4 separate regions of the Homo sapiens genome follow, and regions 1, 2 and 4 are each linked to region 3. Evidence: fine-mapped expression QTL. A gene starts in region 3. Each other region holds a variant in brackets. All regions are shown on one strand. Distances are between the middles of the regions.

Evidence for each region. PIP is the estimated chance that this variant, and not a neighbour inherited with it, causes the effect.
Region 1: its variant is the best candidate, but not a certain one, in a credible set for the expression of VAPB in lymphoblastoid cells (GTEx, PIP 0.62).
Region 2: its variant is the best candidate, but not a certain one, in a credible set for the expression of VAPB in nasal epithelium (TOPMed, PIP 0.71).
Region 4: its variant is the best candidate, but not a certain one, in a credible set for the expression of VAPB in sun-exposed skin (GTEx, PIP 0.61).

Annotation. Positions count from the first base shown.
Region 1 is chr20:58,431,920-58,437,630 of GRCh38, forward strand. It overlaps VAPB (VAMP associated protein B and C), which reads left to right. Exons shown (of 6, transcript NM_004738.5): 3 at 2,683-2,786. Among named protein-coding and RNA genes, the nearest start is that of VAPB, 46 kb to the left of the region's middle. The variant G/A (reference allele first, on the strand shown) is at 2,191.
Region 2 is chr20:58,411,330-58,417,040 of GRCh38, forward strand. All of the region lies in intron 1 of VAPB (VAMP associated protein B and C), which reads left to right. Among named protein-coding and RNA genes, the nearest start is that of VAPB, 25 kb to the left of the region's middle. RefSeq lists enhancers at 1,768-2,559, 2,560-3,349. The variant G/A (reference allele first, on the strand shown) is at 3,180.
Region 3 is chr20:58,386,733-58,392,443 of GRCh38, forward strand. It overlaps VAPB (VAMP associated protein B and C), which reads left to right and starts at 2,497. Exons shown (of 6, transcript NM_004738.5): 1 at 2,497-2,785. The coding sequence starts at 2,728. RefSeq lists silencers at 2,206-2,645, 2,906-3,025.
Region 4 is chr20:58,439,582-58,445,292 of GRCh38, forward strand. VAPB (VAMP associated protein B and C) reads left to right here. Exons shown (of 6, transcript NM_004738.5): 5 at 1,326-1,502; 6 at 4,496-5,711. The coding sequence ends at 4,654. Among named protein-coding and RNA genes, the nearest start is that of VAPB, 53 kb to the left of the region's middle. The variant C/T (reference allele first, on the strand shown) is at 2,874.

The DNA.
Region 1 (5,711 bases), 45 kb after region 3:
AAATGGGAGCACTAAGGAGAATTTGCCTTCTATGGTACCTATTACACAGGAGGCATGAGTAAAGATTCTTTTCCTTTCTTTCCTTCTTGGGCCATCATGAAAGTATTGGGGATGAAGAAGCTGAGGGATGATGGAGAAATGGAAAGGAAGGACCTGTTTTCCCTTGGGGCATTCTTAGAACCCAGGCAGAGCTCTGGACACAGTGCTCTTGGCTGTACTTTTTTACTCCCACTGCCTCTAGGAAGGTGATGAATGGGAAGGGGCAGGCAGAGCTTCCTGGGGCTGTTTTTTGGGGGTGTGTTCTGTTCTCTGGACCCATTGGTTTTTGTATTTCATCTAAATAGCTTCTCTAAAAATTAGCATTTTCCTTGGATTGCTGTCATGTGAGCATCAGGGATCTTTACAAATAAACCTTGTTCCTCCTCAGAGCTCTCCAGAGTGGTAGACTTGGGAGTGGTGCAATAGCTGTTCACAGCTGGGAGAACAGAGTCTCAAGGGTAAGACGGTGTTTACTACTAGATCTGTGCCCTGCCAAAAATCTAAGAGTAGTTCAGGTCAAAGTTCTCTTCTTTCCTAAACTGAAAAATACCAGAGCATGATTTTGTCACAGCCAAGGAAGACCTGAAATTCTTAAAACTGAATTCACTTTAATTTTAGAAAGGGAACATTAATCTAACAGTGAATCCCAGCTCCAAAGAAGGTTGACAGTCCCTGTCCAGGAAGGTTCACAGAGCATGTAAAGACATTGGCTCTTTACTTTAAAATGTGTGTTTTCGTTATTGCAATCTTAGGGGCAGGAAAAAAACACATTGGGAATTTGGCTTTCAGAAAAAGCATTGACCTGCCAGTCTGGTCATTTGTCCCTGAGGTTAAGTGTCAAGCCCAGGTCGGTAAATGTTCCAGGTCTGTCTGTAGGAAAGGTCAGCTCTTGCCAGCTCAGTGATGCCAGAGAAAGAGTTATGTTGATAAAAGGTTTACTCTCTGACAGTTATTGAATTTTGTCCTGAAGAAGTCTCCCAGCAAGGCTTCCTTGTAGCTCAGGGCCTTCAGGTGGGTCTTGTGGGCAGTGAAGCTGTCTGGGTGACTAGGGACACCAGTGCATTTAAGTCCAATGCATGGTTAGGTCTCAGTGGACTTTCTCTGTTCCCATGGTGAAGAGTGCTACTGCATCCCTAAGATGGATGGGGGAGGTTGGTATTTCTATCCTGTTTTGTGAATGGTTCCATTAGCTTTGTCGTGGGGCCTGGGTGCCAGATATAAATCTAGCTCATATTGGAGTGACTAGTGTGGTGAAAGGGGTGCTAGACTGCACTTGTAGTCAAGTCTTGGCTCTTTGTCCCAGTGTTGCCACTTCTTAACATTGTGACTTTGAGGGAGCCACTTCACTTTGTGGAATCCCAGATTCTTCATTTGTAGACCACGGCTATCCTGCTTTCTATCTGCTGCTGGCTGTGGTTGATTGTGTGGCTCTAGAGGAAGCACCTGGGAAGTCCTAAGTTGGGGTTTCAAGGCAAGAGAATGCTGATGAGGGCCCAGCAGAAAGGTGGTAGAAGCCCTGCTGGTGAGAAGCATAAGACTTGTACTGTCAGAGGACAAGGCACCAGTCCTTTGTGGTGGCTGTGAACTTAGGTCCCCACACCAACTGCCTGGGTTTGAGTCTGCACTCCACCAAGGTGTAACCTTGGGCAAATTCACCTCTCTGTGTTCATTCTTTTCATGTGAAAAGTAGACACCAGAATAGCCCCTCTCCCCCAACAATAGTACCTACTTTTTAAGGATTAAATGAGATGATGGTAAACCTAAGGGACAGAGCCCAGTTTCTGGCACATGGAGATACTCAGTCCATGCCCACTGTTGTGGTCAAGGCCACAGTAGGCTTTCCCTGCATGTGAAGTTGTCTCAGGGAACTTAACTAGATGTGTGGGTTAGCCAAAGCCTTGTAGCAAAGTAACATATTTTAAAGCAGCCATCATTTGATAGGAGTAGGCCCAGCTGTACTCTAGGAAGTAGGCTGAAGGGAGCCACTTGGGGTAGGAAGGCACCTCCCTCCATGCAGTGGGTGTGACTCATCCACAGGATCCTCTGTGTGAGATTTCTCTAGGTTCTTAGGGAAAAAAAAGGGGGAGTATAAGCTGATACCGTTTTCCCTGCTGTGTGAGTGTCCTGATTGTAAAAATTTTCTAGCTTTAT[G/A]TTGGCAAAATTGTATTTCAAGGATTACCTTGATTAGCTATATGAGAAATGGGTTGGAGAGAAGCTACAACAGTTCCTTAAATGTTCTTAAACATCTTAGATTATTCTATTTAATTCCTGAAGAGATCATTTGGATATGTTTTCTTGAGCAAAACAGGCAGATGGTGTTGCTACCCAGTTTCCCAATTCTGTAAGGCCTGTAGCAGACATTTACGGTAGGCTTGCAGTAGTGAAAGATCCATGGACTAGGAATCAGAAGACTGGGTCCTCGGCCTTATTCCCAGCTCTGTCATGCGTGATTTTGTGGCTCTTAGGTTGGTGACCTGCAAAATGGAGATGTTGGTCATCCTTGCTTACTTCACCAGGGGCGTCCATCCTAAGACATAAGAGAATGCCGGTAAATTGCTTTACAACCAAAGTACAAGTATTAGCATAATAAATGGCACTGACAACCAAGCTCTGACCCTCCTAATGAAATATTTTCTTTCTCAGTGATGTTACAGCCTTTCGATTATGATCCCAATGAGAAAAGTAAACACAAGTTTATGGTTCAGTCTATGTTTGCTCCAACTGACACTTCAGATATGGAAGCAGTAGTAAGTACTGAATGCTTCTTATTTTTTTCAGTAACAATAATTTAAAAAACCAATTAGATATGGAATTGTGGGTGCATGCATTTCAAAATATGTCAAAATTATTTAAAAGGGAATAGTTTTTTTTCAAGGAGGTTTGTACTTTATCTACCTTTATGGTTTTTCTAAAACTTTGAGGAATAATTTTAACATTTTTTGTGACTTTCTAGAAGGCTGTTCTTTTCTGACTTTCCTGAGCTCAGTGTGCTTCAGCAGCTCCTTGCACTGGTGGATGGTGTCTTGCATGGTTAGGGATTGCCTTCTTTCGCCTCTCCTTTCTGCCCCGACAGAAAAGGATACTTTTCATTGTCCCGCCTTTTTCTTACTTGTCTTCTCATCCCCCACAAACTCAAGAGCCATGTGAGAGTGTCAGTGCTGAATGTCCTCACCCATTTAGACATACATGTTTGTGGCTTTGTTCTAGTAAATATGCTTATTTATTTTCCCCCCTGCTTAAATCTATGTTTAACTTTTCTCTAATTTTGATAAAATTAAGATGACTTCATTTTTATAAAAGAAATAAGTGATGTTAGTGATGGTTTTGGAAAAAAAAAAAAGAGTATAATGGACATTCCCTCCAAAACGAGCTTTTTATACATTTGAATAAGTCCATTGGCATTCTGGGGCTGGGAGTTGAATTGAAATCTACAATACAACCCACAGCCCCAGCAGGGACAGATGCGCTTGTCCTTACAGTTCAGGAAAGCAGGACAGGGTTGCCTCATACCACTTGCATTGCTCTCCAGTTTTGGCCCGCCCAAAGGGGAGCCCCGAGTCATCCACGGCAGGTCTGCCCACCTGAGTCCGCTGTTCATCACACCATACTGCAGTTCTCCTCTGTCTGAGTTTCATACCAAGGGCAACTCAGGCCAAGACCACCCCATGCCCTATGTCACCACATAGCCTTTTGTTTAAGTTCTGGAGAAGCATCTCCGCTGATGTTTCACTTGTAGGCAGAAAATGAAGGAGGAGGCCAGATATTTTTGACTTTTAGAGAGATCAGTGATAATAGGCTGTCTTCTTTTCATAAGAACAATTCTTATGAAAACTTTCTCTGATTTTCTGCAACATGATGTGTTACTTCATGTTAATTTGTGTGATCAAAGAAACATGGCAGATAGAAAATAATGGAAGATCCAAGGGTGTGTTCTGTTTGGCTTCTGCTGCATGGCATAGTGAAAAGAGCATGGGCTTGGGTGTTTTCGAGCTGAGTTCTTCCTTTTACTGACGTTGTGGCTGGGAGCAGGTTTTATTAACTCTGTTGAGGTTTTGATCATTTGTAAAATAGGGATAAAAATGCAGCTCACACAGTGGTGAGTATGAAGTGTGCCTGTGTAAGTGCCTGGTGGGTCCAGTGTCTGACACTTGCTTATCAGAGTGTGTAATAGGCCAGTCACTGCATATCTAGTAAAGGGTCATTTTAGTTCCTTGTATGATGATATAAGTTTAAATTTTTTTTATATAAAATGTACATTGTGGGAAATTTTGGAAATACACAAATGAAAAAAATTTAAAGTGACCCATAGTTCTTTTCTACTAGGCCTAACCATCATTAATGAGAAATGAGAGCTTTGTGTTTTTCTTCCTTTTTTTTTTTTTTTTTTTTTTTGGAGACATGATTTTACTGTGTCACCTAGGCTGGAATGCAGTGGAGTGATCTCAGCTCGCTGCAGCCTCCACCTCCTGGGCTCAAGTGATCCTCCCACCTCAGCCTCCCAAGTAGCTGGGACCACAGGAGCGCACCACCATGCCTGGCTAATTTTTTTGTAGAGACAGGTTTTCTCCATGTTGCCCAAGCTGGTCTCAAACTCCTGGACTCAAGCGATCTGCCCACCTCAGCCTCCCAAAGTGGTAGGATTACAGGCATGAGCCACTGCCCCAGCCTGCTTTTTCTTTATTTTAAAATGTTTTTCTTTTTATTGTGATATACAGAAAGTTGAAAAAATAGCATGGTGACCACTCATATAACTTTTACCTAGATTTACATTTGTTAACATGTTGTGACATTTGCTTCCTTTCTGTCACAAACTTTCTTATTTGCTTGAGATGCAAATTTATGACACTTCACCCCTAAATGCTTCAGAGCAAGGACAGTCTCTTATATAGTCATGATACTATTAATCATAGCTGAAAAAAGTAACTTCAATTCAGTATTATTATGTGATAAATTCATATTCATTATTTCCTAGTTGTTCCAAAAGTGACCTTTAGTAGAGGACACCCAAACCTTTTTGTTTTTCAAACTTTGAACTTTTTTTTTTTTTTTTTTTTTTTTTGAGACAAAGTCTTGCTTTGTCACCAAGGCTGAAGTGCAGTGGTGCAGTCATGGCTTGACCTCCACCTCAGCTGTTCGAGTAACTAAAACTACAGGCATGCCACCATGCCGGCTATTTTTTTATTTTTTTATAGAGTTGGGGTCTCACTATGTTGCCCAGGCTGGTCTTGAACTTCTGGGCTCAAGTGATCCTCCTGCCTCTGCCTCTCGAAGTGCTGGGATTACAGGTGTGAGCCACTGCACCCTGCCCAAACTTTGAACTTCTTTTTTTTTTTAAGAGTCCAGGCCAGTTGACTTACAGAATGTCCTGTATTCTGGATTTATTTGATTATTTCCTCATGATTAAATTCAAGTTAAATGTGTTTTGGCAAGAATATTCCATAGTTGGTATTTCATACCAGGTTGTTCCGCTGTTGGTGATGCTGTTTGATCACTTGGTTAAGATGGTGACTGCCAGCTCTCTCCACTGTCATAGCACAAAGCACATTTGCCCCTGTGGTTAATAGGTAATCTGTGATACTCTGAGTCATCTGATACTTTGAGACCATGTGAATATCCTGCTCGCCAGCAGTCTTTCACCTGGTGCTTTTAGCATTCAGTGATGATCCTTGCTT
Region 2 (5,711 bases), 25 kb after region 3:
GAAGTGCAGTGGCACAGTCTTGGCTCACTGCAACCTCTGCCTCCCGGGTTCAAGTGATCCTCCTGCCTCAGCCTCCCCAGTAGCTGGGACTACAGGCATGGGCCACCACACCTGGCTACTTTTTGTATTTTCAGTAGAGACAGGGTTTCACCATGTTGGCCAAGCTGGTCTCGAATTCCTGACCTCAGCTGATCCACCCGCCTTGGCCTCCTGATTACAGGCGTGAGCCACCGCACCCGGCCAGACATCTTTTCGTATGTTTATTTGCTTTCTGTACGTTTTTGGTGAGGTGGCTGTTCAGATCTTTTGCCCATTTTAAAATTAGGTTGTTCATTTTATTTTATTTTATTTTTATTATTTTTTGAGACGGAGTCTCTTTCGCTCTGTCACCCAGACTGGAGTGCAGTGGCACGATCTCAGCACATTGGAAGCTCCGCCTCCCTGGTTCAGGCCATTCCCCTGCCTCAGCCTCCAGAGTAGCTGGGACTACAGGTGCCCACCACCACGCCCGGCTAATTTTTTTGTATTTTTAGTAGAGACGGGGTTTCACCGTGTTAGCCAGGATGGTCTCGATCTCCTGACGTTGTGATCCACCCGCCACAGCCTCCCAAAGTGCTGGGATTACAGGCATGAGCCACTGTGCCCAGCCTTCATTTTCATATTATTGAGTTTTAAGAGTTCTTTGTATAGTTTGGTTGACAGTATTTTATTCAGGTATGTTTTTAGCAAATATTTTCTCCTGGCTTGTGGCTTGTCTTCTGCAGAACAGATGTTTTTATTTTTAATGAAGTCTAGCTAATCAGTTATTTTTTTCATGGATTTTGTTTTGGTGTTGTAAGTAGTCATCTCCAAATCCAAGGCCATCTAGATTTTATTCTGTCATCCTGTAGGAGTTTTATAGTTTGGGGTCTAAATATACTTTAGCCTTTATTTTTCTGGTAGAATTGCTAAGTTAAAAGTAAAATTATGGCTGGGCGTGGAGGCTCACACCTCTAATCCCAGCACTTTGGGATGCCAAGGTGGGTGGATCATTTGAGGTCAGGAGTTTGAGACCACCCTAGCCAATGTAGTAAAACCCTGTCTCTATTAAAAATACAAAAATTAGCCAGGTGTGGCATATGCCTGTGGTCCTAGCTACTTGGGAGGTTGGGGCATGAGAATCGCTTGAACCTGGGAGGTGGAGGTTGCAGTGAGCCAAGATCGTGCCACTGCACTCCAGCCTGGGTGACAGAGTGAGACTCTGTCTCAAAAAAAAAAAAAAGGTAAAATTATATATTTACTCCTTAAAAACTTCTATCTTGCCATTTAGTAGATAGGATGTTATGCTATGCTTGAGGTAATACAGATAGGTAAGGCCTAGATTGAGTTTTCAGTTCACTGGAAATTTTCATTATTACTTTTTATAATTTGATGGGACATGAACTTTTAAATTATTCTTTTGTAAAGATAGTATTTACATTTCCTGAAGGGAAGCGTTTTAATTTTTCTTCCATGGCTCTTGAATGAATAATTACAGAAAAGCATTTAAATCATATGTAGATCAGGAGACTGTTTAAAGATTTAATGGAATACTTTTCCCATAAAATGCTCTTAGGTTTCCTGACAAGTTTATTCAGCCATTTTTTTATGACATTTTCAACACCTGGAACCTGACCTCTTCATGTTGTGCTGGATTGTGACGGTCTTTGACCTTCAAACCAGAACTTTATACATCTTAAGGCCCAATTTTTGTAATTAAGAGTAAAAAGCAACTATTTCTTCTTTCACTTTTAATGGTATGCAAGTTTTTGCTGGTATTGTATTTGCCTTCTTTTTTTTTTTTTTTTAATTTATTTTTTATTGATAATTCTTGGGTGTTTCTCACAGAGGGGGATTTGGCAGGGTCATAGGACAATAGTGGAGGGAAGGTCAGCAGATAAACAAGTGAACAAAGGTCTCTGGTTTTCCTAGGCAGAGGACCCTGCGGCCTTCCGCAGTGTTTGTGTCCCTGGGTACTTGAGATTAGGGACTGGTGATGACTCTTAACGAGCATGCTGCCTTCAAGCATCTGTTTAACAAAGCACATCTTGCACCGCCCTTAATCCATTTAACCCTGAGTGGACACAGCACATGTTTCAGAGAGCACAGGGTTGGGGGTAAGGTCACCGATCAACAGGATCCCAAGGCAGAAGTTTTCTTAGTACAGAACAAAATGAAAAGTCTCCCATGTCTACTTCTTTCTACACAGACATGGCAACCATCCGATTTCTCAATCTTTTCCCCACCTTTCCCGCCTTTCTATTCCACAAAGCCGCCATTGTCATCCTGGCCCGTTCTCAATGAGCTGTTGGGCACACCTCCCAGACGGGGTGGTGGCCAGGCAGAGGGGCTCCTCACTTCCCAGTAGGGGCGGCCGGGCAGAGGCGCCCGTCACCTCCCGGGTGGGGCCGCTGGCCGGGCGGGGGGCTGACCTCCCCACCTCCCTCCCGGACGGGGCAGCTGGCCGGGCGGGGGGCTGACCCCGCCACCTCCCTCCCAGATAGGGCGGCTGGCCTGGCAGAGGGGCTCCTCACTTCCCAGTAGGGGCGGCCGGGCAGAGGCGCCCCTCACCTCCCGGATGGGGCGGCTGGCCGGGTGGGGGGCTGACCTCCCCACCTCCCTCCCGGACGGGGCAGCTGGCCGGGCGGGGGGCTGACCCCGCCACCTCCCTCCCAGATAGGGCGGCTGGCCTGGCAGAGGGGCTCCTCACTTCCCAGTAGGGGCGGCCAGGCAGAGGCGCCCCTCACCTCCCGGACGGGGCGGCTGGCCGGGCGGGAGGCTGACGCCCCGACCTCCCTCCCGGACGGGGCGGCTGGCCGGGCGGGGGGCTGACCCCCCACCTCCCTCCCTGACGGGGCGGCTGGCCGGGCGGGGGGCTGACCCCCCAACCTCCCTCCTGGACGGGGCGGCTGGCGGGGCGTGGGGCTGACCCCCCCACCTCCCTCCCGGATGGGGCTGCTGGCCTGGCGGGGGGCTGACCCCCCCCACCTCCCTCCCGGACGGGGCGGCCGCCGGGCGGAGACGCCCCCCACCTCCCAGACGGGGTGGCCGCCGGGCGGAGAGGCTCCCCACCCCTCAGACGGGGCAGCCGCCGGGCGGAGGGTCTCCCCACTCCTCAGACGGGGCGGTTGCCGGGCAGAGGGTCTCCTCACCTCTCAGAC[G/A]GGGCGGTGGGGCAGAGATGCTCCTCACCTCCCAGACGGGGTCGTGGCCGGGCAGAGGCGCTCCTCACATCCCAGACGGGGCGGCGGGGCAGAGGCGCTCCCCACATCTCAGACGATGGGCGGCCGGGCAGAGACGCTCCTCACTTCCTAGATGTGATGGCGGCCGGAAAGAGGCGCTCCTCACCTCCTAGATGGGATGGCGGCCGGTCGGAGACGCTCCTCACCTCCCAGACTGGGCAGCCAGGCAGAGGGGCTCCCCACATCCCAGACGATGGGTGGCCAGGCAGAGACGCTCCCCACTTCCCAGACGGGGTGGCGGCCGGGCAGAGGCTGCAATCTCAGCACTCTGGGAGGCCAAGGCAGGCGGCTGGGAGGTGGAGGTTGTAGCGAGCCGAGATCACGCCACTGCACTCCAGCCTGGGCACCACCGAGCACTGAGTGAACGAGACTCCGCCTGCAATCCCGGCACGTCGGGAGGCCGAGGCCGGCGGATCACTTGCGGTTAGGGGCTGGAGACCGGCCTGGCCAACACAGCGAAACCCCGTCTCCACCAAAACCAGTCAGGCGTGGCGGCGCGAGCCTGCAATCGCAGGCACTCTGTATTTGCCTTGTAAAACAGATCAATTCTAGCCCCTCTTACTGTCTTACTCTTACCTCTTATTGCCTTAAACACAATTTAAAATGACAAAAATCCAAGCACAGTGGGTCCTGGGGGAAGGTAGAGGAAATAAATTATACTGTGTTTAGCTTTATCTAAATACCTTTTACAGCATGTCAAGGAATTCATTTTCAGTTCATTAGTGCTGTTTCATAAGCATCTTCAGCAAACTCACACAAATGTTCACAGATGAGTATATGCATAATCTAGGACATAAAGGGCATTGTTTACATTATTAAAAAGAGTAACAGTTTCAAAGAGTATTGCCAGTTTCTCCCAAATTCATGTTTTTTCACTTTTTTAACCTCCCATTTCACATTTTAGATGCTTAGTTCCTGGTTTTGTTACAGACATTATCTGAAATAAGGAATAGAAGATTAAAAATGATTTGAAGTGTATGCTGTGGTTCTAGAGACACATCATTTTTTTTTATCTCTAAAAAGGAAAAATTCTAAGTTTAGAAGGAGATTTCATTTGTAAAATTGACTGTACTTTATAAGCAGTGTTTAAATTCATTGGTGGTAAATATGCATGTTGGTATAGTAAAATCCCATTTTTTACATAATGCTTTAATGGAAATGGCAGTTTTATGAAATGAAAGTGACTAGTAAAAGTCTGAATGATGCTCATAAGCTTTTACATCATTTTTATTGAAGGTTTTGTGTATGCTAATCCATTAATACAGGGGAAAAGGAGAACACTAACATGGTTTATTTTCTATAATTACTCAAATAGAATATAATTTATTTTCAATAAAATTCTTGGAGCAAATTGCCCAGAGTAGGGAGAGGAAGGTTGGCCTGTTCTTACAAATATCTTGATTTTTACCCACGGGACTTTGTTATTTTACCAGTGATGTTGTTTCATTGCATATATTTTCAGTATAGTTCCCTCCAGATTTTTACAAATAAAAGCCTGTGAAAGGCCAAGAAATCCCAAGCATGTAAAGACCCAGGATTGTGGAGGGAGAAATCTGGGATGTTTATTTTATCCTGTTTATTATTACAAATATTGCTTGTCTTTTAATAGTTTAGACTTCCTTTTATGTGGTTTATATAAGTTGAAGCACCATTAAGATTGCTGTGTAATAGCAATTAACTGTGATGTAATAGATTAACCTGGGGAAATTTTCAAAAACAGTTAAGTGTTTACATTTAAATTTGGCTTATTTTTGTAGAGTACCTTGAAGAAGAGGTCAGTGTAAGGAATAAACAAATACTTAAATTTGGGATCCTCACACCACAACTTCATAAGGGGGAGAGGGTGAACTGAGGTATCCCGTAGGTGGTTGAGGTGTGTGTGCTTGTGAGTTTTCTGTATTTCTTTGCAGTTGGGTTCAGCGAGGAGCAGTTTTCTGTGTTCACCAGTGTTGATAGCAGACAAAATCACACAGAAACAAATACGAAAATTGTTTTATGTCCAGAATGTCCCTCTAATATGCACATGAGTAACGTTGGATCAAATTTATGTTTTCAAAATAAGTCTCATAGCAGAACTAGCTGTCGTTTGATTTTGGGATTGAGTCCCATTTCCTTCCTTCCTTATCACCATTTTGATTTCTTAATTTGTATTAAGGTAAGCCCATATCAGATTGATTTTTTTTTTTTCCATGCCCGGAGCACCTCAAGAGTAGAGACACCAGCCTGAGGATCTTAATTTTGCTGGAGATAATCCACACACAGGTAGTTTTCTTCTTGGTGAATATGTAGATTGAGATCTTTATTCTATGCCAGCCACAGTGCTGGGGCTACAGAGATGGATAAGGTATAATCCTTGTCTCAGGAGCTTAGAGTCTCATTGAAAAGTTTTTCAAAACACACATTTGAATGATTTTGTTGAGTCAACATTACGTATTTGTTTGTGAACACATAAGC
Region 3 (5,711 bases):
AAATTCAGAAAGCCCAAAGAACTCAAGGCAGGATAAATAAAAAGATAACAGCATGAGCTGGGCATGGTGGCTCACGCCTGTAATCCCAACTTTTTGGGAGGTCGAGGTGGGTGGATTACCTGAGGTCAGGAGTTTGAGACCATCTGGCCAACATGGCAAAACTCTGTCTCTACTGAAAACACAAAAATTAGCTGGGCATGGTGGTGCGTGCCTGTAATCCCAGCGACTCAGGAGGCTGAGGCAGGAGAATCGCTTGAACATGGGAGGCGGAGGTTGCAGTGAGCTGAGATGGCGTCACTGCACTCCAGACTGGGGGACAGAGCGAGACTCCGTCTCAAAAAAAAAAAAAAAAAAAGATACAGCATGGTAAAACTGTAGAACATGAGAAGAGGGAGAAAAGACCAACAACCTATGAAGGAACGATGTTAAGATTGTCACTGGACTCCTGAGGAGCAATGAGGGGGAACAGGCAAACAGTGGATGGCAATCAAGTGTGCTGAGAGAGGACAGCTGTCATTCAAGCAAGCAAGCCAAAATATCTGTCAAGAACAAGGGCAAGGCCAGGCGCAGTGGCTCATGCCTGTAATCCTAGCACTTTGGCGGCTGAAGCAGGAGGATCACTTGAGCCCAGGAGTTTGAAACCAGCCTGGGCAACATAGTGAGATTTTACAGAAAATAAAAAAATTAGCTGGGCGTGGTGGTGCATGCTTTTAGTCCCAGCTACACCGGAGTCTGAGGTGGGAGGATTGTTTCAGCCTGGGAGATACAGGTTGCAGTGAGCCACGATCATGCCACTGCACTCCAGCATGGGCAACAGAGCAAGACCTCATCTCCAAATAAATAAATAAATAAAATAAAAACAACAAAAGGCAAAAATGAATCCATTTGCAGATGAGCAGAAACTGAGAGGATTTGCACCAACGAAGCTACAAAAAAATAAAATTTAAAGGATTTACCTCAGGCAAAAGGAGAGTGATCCTGTTGGTGAAAGCTGAGATGCAAGAAGAAAAGGTGGATAAAAATGGTAATTGTGTGGCTGAATCTAAACTAATGTTGACTGAATAAAACAATTTAGTAATGTCTCTTGGGGTTACAGTGGCAAAGGTTAAACTTAACATACACTACATTAAGGTGTATAATTTAGAGGATGGGTGATTAAAGTACTCCAAAGTCTTTATATTTTAAGGAAACAGGGTAAAGACATTTTTACAAATATTTAAAGATATTGGACTTTCACAAGGTAAGTATGCATGCCCAAAAGTTTGAAGTAACCACTAAAACTTAGAAATAGAGTATACAGGTGAAGAAAATCAGAATGAGAATAAAAATAAACCCTAAAGAAGAAAGGAAAGGGGAAAAAAACCAGGCAGGACAAATAGAAATAACAAAATACAATGGTAGAAATAATTCCAGATATATCAGTAAATATAATAAATGTAAATGGACTAAATGCTCCAGTTAAAATACAAAGACTATTCTTTTAAAAAACCTTTTTATCATGAAAAATTTCAAGTATACAGCAAAGTGGGAGAAACAGTACAAGAAAACCATATACCTGCGATGTAGAGTCAGCCATTGCTAGCAATTTGCCACATTTGTCTCACCTATATGGGTATGTATAGGAGACTATTAAGAACACCTATTTAACTTCCATAGTAAACATAATATAATGAAATACAATTTAAACGGTAATCATGATGTAGAGTATCCACTTTTGAGGTCAAGCAGATCTGGATTCTCCAGCAATTTTTAATTATTTAACTTACGTGTGTGGTTATTTATTCAAAAGATGTCTCTTCACTAGGCTATAGTAAAAGGATTGGAATCAGGTTCGCTTTTCTGATCATTGTATTTCTAAATATTTGTTGCATAAACAAATAGAATTTACTAGTAAAGAATTCAGCACAGTGCCAGTTGCATAGTAAACATTTAACGTAGAGTAGCTTGTATTTATTGTAGTTGCTGTTGTTATTGGAAGCATTCAGTAGAGTGATACAAAATAAATAAGCAATAATTGGTAGTTTATTATATTTATAATTATTATTTACAAGACGTCACAGTGCCTAGCCCATATCACTCACCCATAAACATTATACTTATACTAAGTACTTTCACTATTATTCAAAGTCTCTAACAGTGCCTGGCACTACATAAGCAAGAGAAAAGTGGAAGTTTATTCTAATTGTTATTATTGAATAAAGCACTTAACACGAAGCTGGCCCCCAGCGGGCCCTTAATAGTTTCCGCGGTGGCTGTCGTAGCTGGACTACAGACCCCGCCTCCTGAGCGGCCCGAAGCCCCGCCCCTTACTGCCCCGCAGTCCCGCCCCCGTGGCTTGTGCCGCGCCTGCGCACTGTCCCGGAAGGGGCTCTACGCGCGCAGCTTTAGTCCCCGCCCCTGGAGCCGGCGGCGCAGGGCGCAGCTTCCCGCCGCCAGAGCGGGCCAGCCTGCTGCGTGCGTGCGTGTGTACGACTCTGCGTGCGTGCGTGCGTGCGTGCGTGCCGTCAGCTCGCCGGGCACCGCGGCCTCGCCCTCGCCCTCCGCCCCTGCGCCTGCACCGCGTAGACCGACCCCCCCCCAGCGCGCCCACCCGGTAGAGGACCCCCGCCCGTGCCCCGACCGGTCCCCGCCTTTTTGTAAAACTTAAAGCGGGCGCAGCATTAACGCTTCCCGCCCCGGTGACCTCTCAGGGGTCTCCCCGCCAAAGGTGCTCCGCCGCTAAGGAACATGGCGAAGGTGGAGCAGGTCCTGAGCCTCGAGCCGCAGCACGAGCTCAAATTCCGAGGTAAGCCCCAGAGGCCGCCACCTTCCTGCCCGCGGCCTCCGCCCCAGTGCTGGAAGGACGGAGCCCGGCGCGGCGGGTGACGTCGGCCCTCGTCCCCACCCCGACGGCGCTGTCGCGGGGGGCGGCGAGGCCGGGCCGGGCCTTGGCGCTCGCCGCGCTCCCCAGAACTGCCCGGAGTGGCCGGGACCCGAGAGGGCTGGTGCGGGAGCCGGGGCCTGCGCCTCCTCCCCGACCCCCAGCCTCCTGGGACTTGCCTTCGAGGCACTTGTCACTTTGTAACTTACCAGTTTGTGATCCTCTCTAGTGTGAGCCTCCGCCGCTGCCTTTGCCTAGAAGTTTCTTCCCCTGCTCCGTGACAGTGTTGACCTCAGGGCTTAGTTGAGGTGTCAGCTGCTCAGAGAGGCCTGCTGTGACCACCCAGCCACCGTGCACACCTGCTGTCATTCCCTATTCCGTCACTGTTTCGTGGTCAGCACGGCACTTTTCATACCCAAAATCACTGTTTCAATACTAGAAGGGAAACTGCATGAGGACAGGCTCTTGTCAGTTCGCTGCTGTGTACCCAGCACACATTATACGCCTAGTAAATAAATACCTGTTGAACCAACAGATGAACATGTTGAACCAACAAATGAACCTCCTCAGGACTTCTGATGGGATTGGGCCCATTTTCCTTTCACTGCGTCCCTCATGCTGTCTCCTGGTTGCGGTGCAAGGAGGCTGCCACGGTGCTGGGATCCTTTTTCTCCGCAGAGCTGTCTGGAGCAACACCTGCGGCGATGGGAAGCCATGACCCTGGTTTCTCCCAGATACTATTACCTCTGTAATTTGTGCCTTTATGTTTTCTATGTTGTTACTTTTGTTTTTTTTTTTTTTTTCCTACCTTCACCAGGGCCACGAGGTAAAAGTTCTTGTCTGACATGCTCATTCTTTCTTTTTGCGTGTATCCAGTGATGTGGGAGGCTCTGGGGAGGTGATGGATGCACAAGACAGATAAGGCCTCTGCTCTCACAGAGCTTACCTTCCGACGAGGACAGACAAACCAACACACAAGATCATTGCAGATAGTGCTAAGTGCTGTGTAGGAAATGGAACAGTCTGACTCCATGGAAGCGTACTTTAGATTGGAAGGCCGGGTCTCCACTATATCGCTAGCACCGGACTCACAGTAGATGCTCAGTTGGTATTTATGAATGAATGAATGGCCAGAGGCTCTCCAGTTTATATGTCCTATTGGGAAGTAGTGTAGGGTAACTTACCCAAAGTTACCCAGTTGGCAAATGGTACATTTGAACCCAGACTTCAGAGTTCACGCTCTTAACCGTTTTGCTGTCTGATCGCTGGGAAATACTCCAGAACGGTGGCTGTCACTTTGCCTTCCAAGTTAACAATGTGAAATAACTCTGAATTTACAGAGAACCAAAGGCTTTCCAATTAAAATGAAAAAACCGAAAAACCCCACCAAACCTACCGTGGATTGTAATTCCAGGATAGTACTTGAGCTTTCATGATGTTCTCATGGCCTTCTGGGGATGCCAGATTGGGAAAGAAGTCCAGGTAGCTAAAGTGAAAATAGTGAGCCTTAGTTTCCACTTGAGTTGTCTGAAGTTCTTTCTCTATCTGGGAGGCCTGGCTTGGCTTCTCCTGATAATTGGTGGGTTCATTCGGTTAGTCCACAAACATTTACTGAGTACCTGATCTGTGTGTCAGATACCCAGAGAAGCCAAGTTATATCAGCTGTACTCTCCTATTTTCCCTCAACCTCCTCCCAGTACTTTAGGGAAGGGGGCAGATGAGAATAACAGCCAGGACAGGACAATGATGTAGGGTAGTCCAGAGTGCTCCAGGAGCATTGAGGAGGTCAACTCCTGAAAGAGGTGTCATTTGAGCTCAGTTATAAAGGTCGAGTAGAAGAAGGCTCAAAGAAGGAAAGGGTGGGGAACATTTCAGACAGAGGAAATTGCATGCACAGAGGCACAAACACTGAGATGACTGGGCTCCTTTGGGATGCCACTAGTAGTTTTTTTTTTTTTGAGATAGAGTTCTCACTCTGTCACCCAGGCTGGAGTGCAGAGGCGCCATCTCACTGCAGCCTCTGCCTCCCAGGTTCAAGTGATTCTCCTGCCTCAGCCTCTTGAGTAGCTGGGATTACATACAGGCATGTGCCACTACGCCTGGCTAAATTTTGTATTTTTAGTAGAGACGGTGTTTCACTATGTTGGCCAGGCTGGTCTCAAACTCCGGACCTCAAGTGATCCGCCCTCCTTGGCCTCTCAAAGTGCTGGGATTACAGGCGTGAGCCCGGCCACCACTAGTGGTTCTGAATGACAGCAACAAAGAACATTTGTTGTGGTTGCCTGGCAAGATGGGAGACAAGGCTGGTGAGTAGACAAGAGTCAGATCTCAGTCCCTTTATGCATAGATGCAGCCAGTGTCCAAGTTAAAATTGTGTTGCTTCTCCTTGAGCAGTCCTTCCTTGCATTAACTTTCTGAAAACCCCCAAATCCCAGTACAAACTCTGTTGTCTAATATGTTATGGAAAGAGGCACTCATTTGAGAAAATTTAAGATTTTGTTCAATTGTTTTACTGAAAGATGTGTGACCTTAGGCCACTTCACTCCTCAAAGCCTGGGGTGGTTATTCGGTCAATGGGGATGATGCTCGTGTCCACGTTGCCTCTTGTAGAACGTGTTTAGAAGGAATGACATGGCTGTTAGTGGCTTTGTAAGTGCATAGTACTATACAGAGATTAGACAACCACTTAACTACTTAAGTGGTTTCATCACTTCTGTACCTGAAAGGTGTGGCAGAGAATAGCGATCATTCTGGCCCTGGATTGGCCAAAGTAATTATGCCAAAGTCACTGGATATTTTTGCTAGGGAAGTGGTCCAAGAGAAGTGGTACCAAATTGTTGAAGGCCTCTGG
Region 4 (5,711 bases), 53 kb after region 3:
CATCCCTGGCTTCTGCCCTCTTGATACTGGTAGTACTTCCCAGTTGTGACAACTAAAAATGTCTCCAGATATTGCCACATGTGTCCTGGAGGGCAATATCAACCCCCATTGAGAGTGATCCCATTCCGGTGTTGCCTGTGGGGAGAAGGAAGGAGCCCCATCCTCTAGGCTGTCCACTGTGAGCGCTTTACCTTTCATGATCCTCACTTGTGACCAGTTGAAGAAAGGAGACTGTATCTGAAATGCTAATTTGGACTTCCCTTCAACCTAGTCGAAAACATTTTAATTTTTATAAAAACACCAAAACTGTGAAAGCATGCAGCATGTGAAACTATCCTAGCCATTAATAGCTGGAGTTGGGAAACAGAAGTACCCTGAAATGTTGTGTTAACAGTATCTATGTTGGTCTGCGCGAGTGCTGTTGATTTGTGTCAAAACTACCTGAGATTTTATTTCTGCTGAATCATTTACCACTATCATTACCCTGTTTCTTTAAGTGGATAGTGGTCATTTTTTCCCTCTTCCCAGTGTACATCCTGTCACAGGAAGGTCAGTTTGGAAGCTGTGAAAGCAGTATTCTGGCCTCAGCTCTGTGATAGGTTGACTTGGTAGCCTGGGGCCTTGCTTCACAGGGCCTACTCTTCTCATCTGGAAAATGATGGGTAGAGCTAGATTCCAGGCCAATGATCGTCAGTTACTCTTTCCCTGACAAGCTGCGTGCTTCCATGCCCTCCCTCCACTGACTGGCTCTCATCCCCTGTAAATCTCAAGAGGGGATCATAGCTGAATCTTGGCAGGGGAAATAAGGGGAGTATGTAACTTCCCAAGATTGAAACATTGCAGACACTGAGTTTGTTTCACCTTCATCCCAGCTTCCAAATGCTAAGTTGGTAAAGTAATTCGCCCTCTGTCTAATGCTCTCCCAAGCCTCCTAACCCCACTAAGGCAATCCTAGGGATGTTCACATCTTTGTGGTGACAGTAATTTGTGGCTAATAATTCCTGAGCTTGCACAATTACAGTATGCTGATTTTTCCGTGGCAGGAATTTGATAGTGCAATATACACAGCCCTTTTTCTCTTTCTTTGAAGTATTAGTCTCAGCCGAACTTCATTATTTGCCCTTATCCATAATTTCTAGGGCCCTGTTGCTTTAGATTATTAAGATATCAGATAAAGTAATCCATTTTTAAAATAAATGTGACATTTTACAGTGTGGATGAAATGCTACCACGTTTGGTGTTTGCTGAGAACTACTTTACTTTGCATAAAAAAGTCCATTATTACATGGTCGGTGACACTTAGGCTTTCATTTGTTTTTGAACAGCATGATGTAGAAATAAATAAAATTATATCCACAACTGCATCAAAGACAGAAACACCAATAGTGTCTAAGTCTCTGAGTTCTTCTTTGGATGACACCGAAGTTAAGAAGGTTATGGAAGAATGTAAGAGGCTGCAAGGTGAAGTTCAGAGGCTACGGGAGGAGAACAAGCAGTTCAAGGTAATAGTTTATTTTCTGGTAATCTACAGAAAACAAGGGCGTTTTCACTAGCTTCTTGGGTGGGGAAGTTGATGAGCCAGTGAATATATAGATTTCTTTTTGCTTTTGGTATTTGGCTATTTTTTTCTCCCCAGGGAGAAATTTCCATGGCTTTCATGAGAGTCTCAAAAGGGTCCTTGGATCTGCCTAAATTAAGAACCACTGTCCCTTGATCAGAAATTTCTCAACTGTTGAAGCTCTTGTCCCCTTAAAAAAAAAAACAAAAACAAAAAACTTGGCCGGGTGCGGTGGCTCACGCCTGTAATCCCAGCACTTTGGGAGGCCAAGGCGGGCCGATCACAAGGTCAAGCGTTCAAGACCAGCCTGGCCAACAAAGTGAAACCCCGTCTCTAATAAAAAATACAAAAAATTAGTTGGGTGTGGTGGCAGGTGCCTGTAATTCCAGCCACTCGGGAGGCTGAGGCAGGAGAATCGCTTGAACCCAGGAGGCGGAGGTTGCAGTGAGCTGAGATCGTGCCACTGCCCTCCAGCCTGGGTGACAGAGCTAGACTTCGTCTCAAAAACAAAATAAACAAAACCCCAAACAACTCAAACTCTCCATTATTGTAAATTGAAAATAAATGTTGAGACCAAAATAGTTTTTATTTTGAATATGCATTTTTAAACCACTTGGGTGAGAATCTTTTTTCAGAGAGTGAATACTGACCTATACTCTGTTTTAATGCAAGTATAGTTCTGATTTTAGAAGACTCTAAATAGGTCTGGGCAGTTGTGGCTCATCAAACTATTGATGTGGTGATGAGCTTGGAGGTGGGGTGCCTCACAGTGGGTAGGAGGTGGAGATTATGGAAGGAAAATCTGAGCTTCTAGCTTCTGGATGAGGCAGTTGGCATTGGCAATGGAAGGTTGTATTGTACTGAGTGATGAAGTGGGGAGGCAGGGGGTGCTTCTTTTGGCTTGTGGTGGTGTGGAAGTTGCTCCCATCCAATATGAAACAGCTCTGAATCTGTGCTGGTCACAGCATCTCTTAGGCCTCTGTTTGCTAAACACCTCTAAGGCCCCTTCCAGCTTTAAAAGTATGAGTTTTCTTCTCTTTTACTCTGACAGTGAGGTAGATATAGGAGAACTGACAGCATTTGGGAAATGGCATCATCTTCTTCCTTTGCAGTGATTTTGATTTGCCTCAGTCAGTAATTTCTTTAGTGTGTAGTAAATTGTGAAGCTGACACTACTTTTTGGCTAAAAATCTAAGCTATGCCTGAAGCTTCTCGAGTGTATTTCTCTTCTGAAACAGAGTTCTGTGCTATTTAAAGTGGTAAATAGGTAGAAATAGCTTCTATATAACCTAATAAAATAAATGGTTTAGTTTGC[C/T]GGGTTTTTTTTTAAGCCAGTCGGACACCACCAGTTGTTTATCACTGTGCAGTGATACGGGCCATGCCCCATGAGCAGAATATCCTTAAAATATGATCAGACCAATCTCAACATTAGAAGATTCTTTATCCTGCCAAACACTGCCTTCTTGTTTTGTGTTGGTTTATTCTGTCATCTGGCCAACAAATTTACTGAGGGTCTAATATGTGCCCGGCACTGTGGATTCAAACACGAACAGCCCCTGCCCTTGAGGAGCTCTCTGTTGTTGGGATAGCAGGGAGAGACATAGACAGAAGTGATTACAAGCCAGTGTGATCAATGTCCCACAGAGATAGCAACAAATTGCAGGGAGAGTCAGCTCCATGGGACTCATCTGCCTGTGGTCCCCAGGACCTACTAGGTACTCGGGCGGATGGGAGCGAATGGAAGGAAACGAAGAAAAGAAAGTACAGCTGGTGTGTGGGGTTTAAGGATGAGGAGATGAGGTAATTAGCAAGAGATCTATCAGCAAAGATGAGTCTGTGCCAGAATAGAATGGCTTGATGCATGTCCCTCTTCAGGGATGTGGGCTTGGCTTTGAGAGCATGGAAATGGCATCATAGATCTACATAGTAACTTGCAGATTCTTAGGAAAGTGCAAGGCAGTTGTGGCAGTGGAGGTGAAGGAAGAAAAAATTTTTCATTTCTTACATTTCCATGTAGTTTGGGGACAAGGGGAGGGTGGGGAATATGGTCAAATATCTTTATATGTATGAAAAAGAATGTTGCTTCTTCAATGAGAAATCTATGCATTAAGTAGAAAATATTTGAGATGAGTGTATGAAGGCCAGTCACATTTTAATATTCCAAATATCATTTGATCCAGCAGTCTGGATGTAACTCATTAAGTACCAGCTATCTACAGAGCTCTGCATTTGAAAGCTTCCAGATGTCCCACTTTTAGGTTTTTTTTTTTTTTTTTTTTTAATATGGAGTCTCACTCTGTCACCCCAGGCTAATTTTTGTAATTTTAGTAGAGACGAGGTTTTACCATGTTGACCAAGGGGTAGTCTTGAACTCCTGAGCTCAGGTGATCCACCCGCCTCAGCCTCCCAAAGTACAGGGATTACAAGCATGAGCCACCGTGCCCAGTTGACTTTGTAGATTCTTTTATTTATATATTTATGTCTTGGGAAATGCCTGTGATTTTAAAAATCGATGATTTGATCAAGGAAGGCTATTCATTAGAGGCAGGAAGGACAGAGAGGTTGGGGTTGAAGAGAAGCATCCGGAAGACATGGCCATAGAGGTGGGTGGGGCCGAGGGTGCAAAGGGCCCAGTTGACCCTTTTAAGTGCTTTTTTCTGTAAATCACGGGAAACCAAGGAGCACCCTGTTTAGATGTCTGTTGTAACTAGCAGCAGCAAGTGGAATGGATGAAAGAAAAGAGGGGACTGTTTTCTCAGTGGCTTCAGGCTAGCCCTTTCCCCTCTGTAGCCTGCAGTTTCTCCGTTTGCAAAATGCGGTTGGACCATATCATGTCATCCAACACTGGGCATAAACAGCCCATCCCGTTAAGCTGTACAGTTGACTCCCCTTTCTGGTGCCTTGGCTTGTCTTTGAAATGTGCGTTTGCTCCCGTAGGAAGAAGATGGACTGCGGATGAGGAAGACAGTGCAGAGCAACAGCCCCATTTCAGCATTAGCCCCAACTGGGAAGGAAGAAGGCCTTAGCACCCGGCTCTTGGCTCTGGTGGTTTTGTTCTTTATCGTTGGTGTAATTATTGGGAAGATTGCCTTGTAGAGGTAGCATGCACAGGATGGTAAATTGGATTGGTGGATCCACCATATCATGGGATTTAAATTTATCATAACCATGTGTAAAAAGAAATTAATGTATGATGACATCTCACAGGTCTTGCCTTTAAATTACCCCTCCCTGCACACACATACACAGATACACACACACAAATATAATGTAACGATCTTTTAGAAAGTTAAAAATGTATAGTAACTGATTGAGGGGGAAAAGAATGATCTTTATTAATGACAAGGGAAACCATGAGTAATGCCACAATGGCATATTGTAAATGTCATTTTAAACATTGGTAGGCCTTGGTACATGATGCTGGATTACCTCTCTTAAAATGACACCCTTCCTCGCCTGTTGGTGCTGGCCCTTGGGGAGCTGGAGCCCAGCATGCTGGGGAGTGCGGTCAGCTCCACACAGTAGTCCCCACGTGGCCCACTCCCGGCCCAGGCTGCTTTCCGTGTCTTCAGTTCTGTCCAAGCCATCAGCTCCTTGGGACTGATGAACAGAGTCAGAAGCCCAAAGGAATTGCACTGTGGCAGCATCAGACGTACTCGTCATAAGTGAGAGGCGTGTGTTGACTGATTGACCCAGCGCTTTGGAAATAAATGGCAGTGCTTTGTTCACTTAAAGGGACCAAGCTAAATTTGTATTGGTTCATGTAGTGAAGTCAAACTGTTATTCAGAGATGTTTAATGCATATTTAACTTATTTAATGTATTTCATCTCATGTTTTCTTATTGTCACAAGAGTACAGTTAATGCTGCGTGCTGCTGAACTCTGTTGGGTGAACTGGTATTGCTGCTGGAGGGCTGTGGGCTCCTCTGTCTCTGGAGAGTCTGGTCATGTGGAGGTGGGGTTTATTGGGATGCTGGAGAAGAGCTGCCAGGAAGTGTTTTTTCTGGGTCAGTAAATAACAACTGTCATAGGGAGGGAAATTCTCAGTAGTGACAGTCAACTCTAGGTTACCTTTTTTAATGAAGAGTAGTCAGTCTTCTAGATTGTTCTTATACCACCTCTCAACCATTACTCACACTTCCAGCGCCCAGGT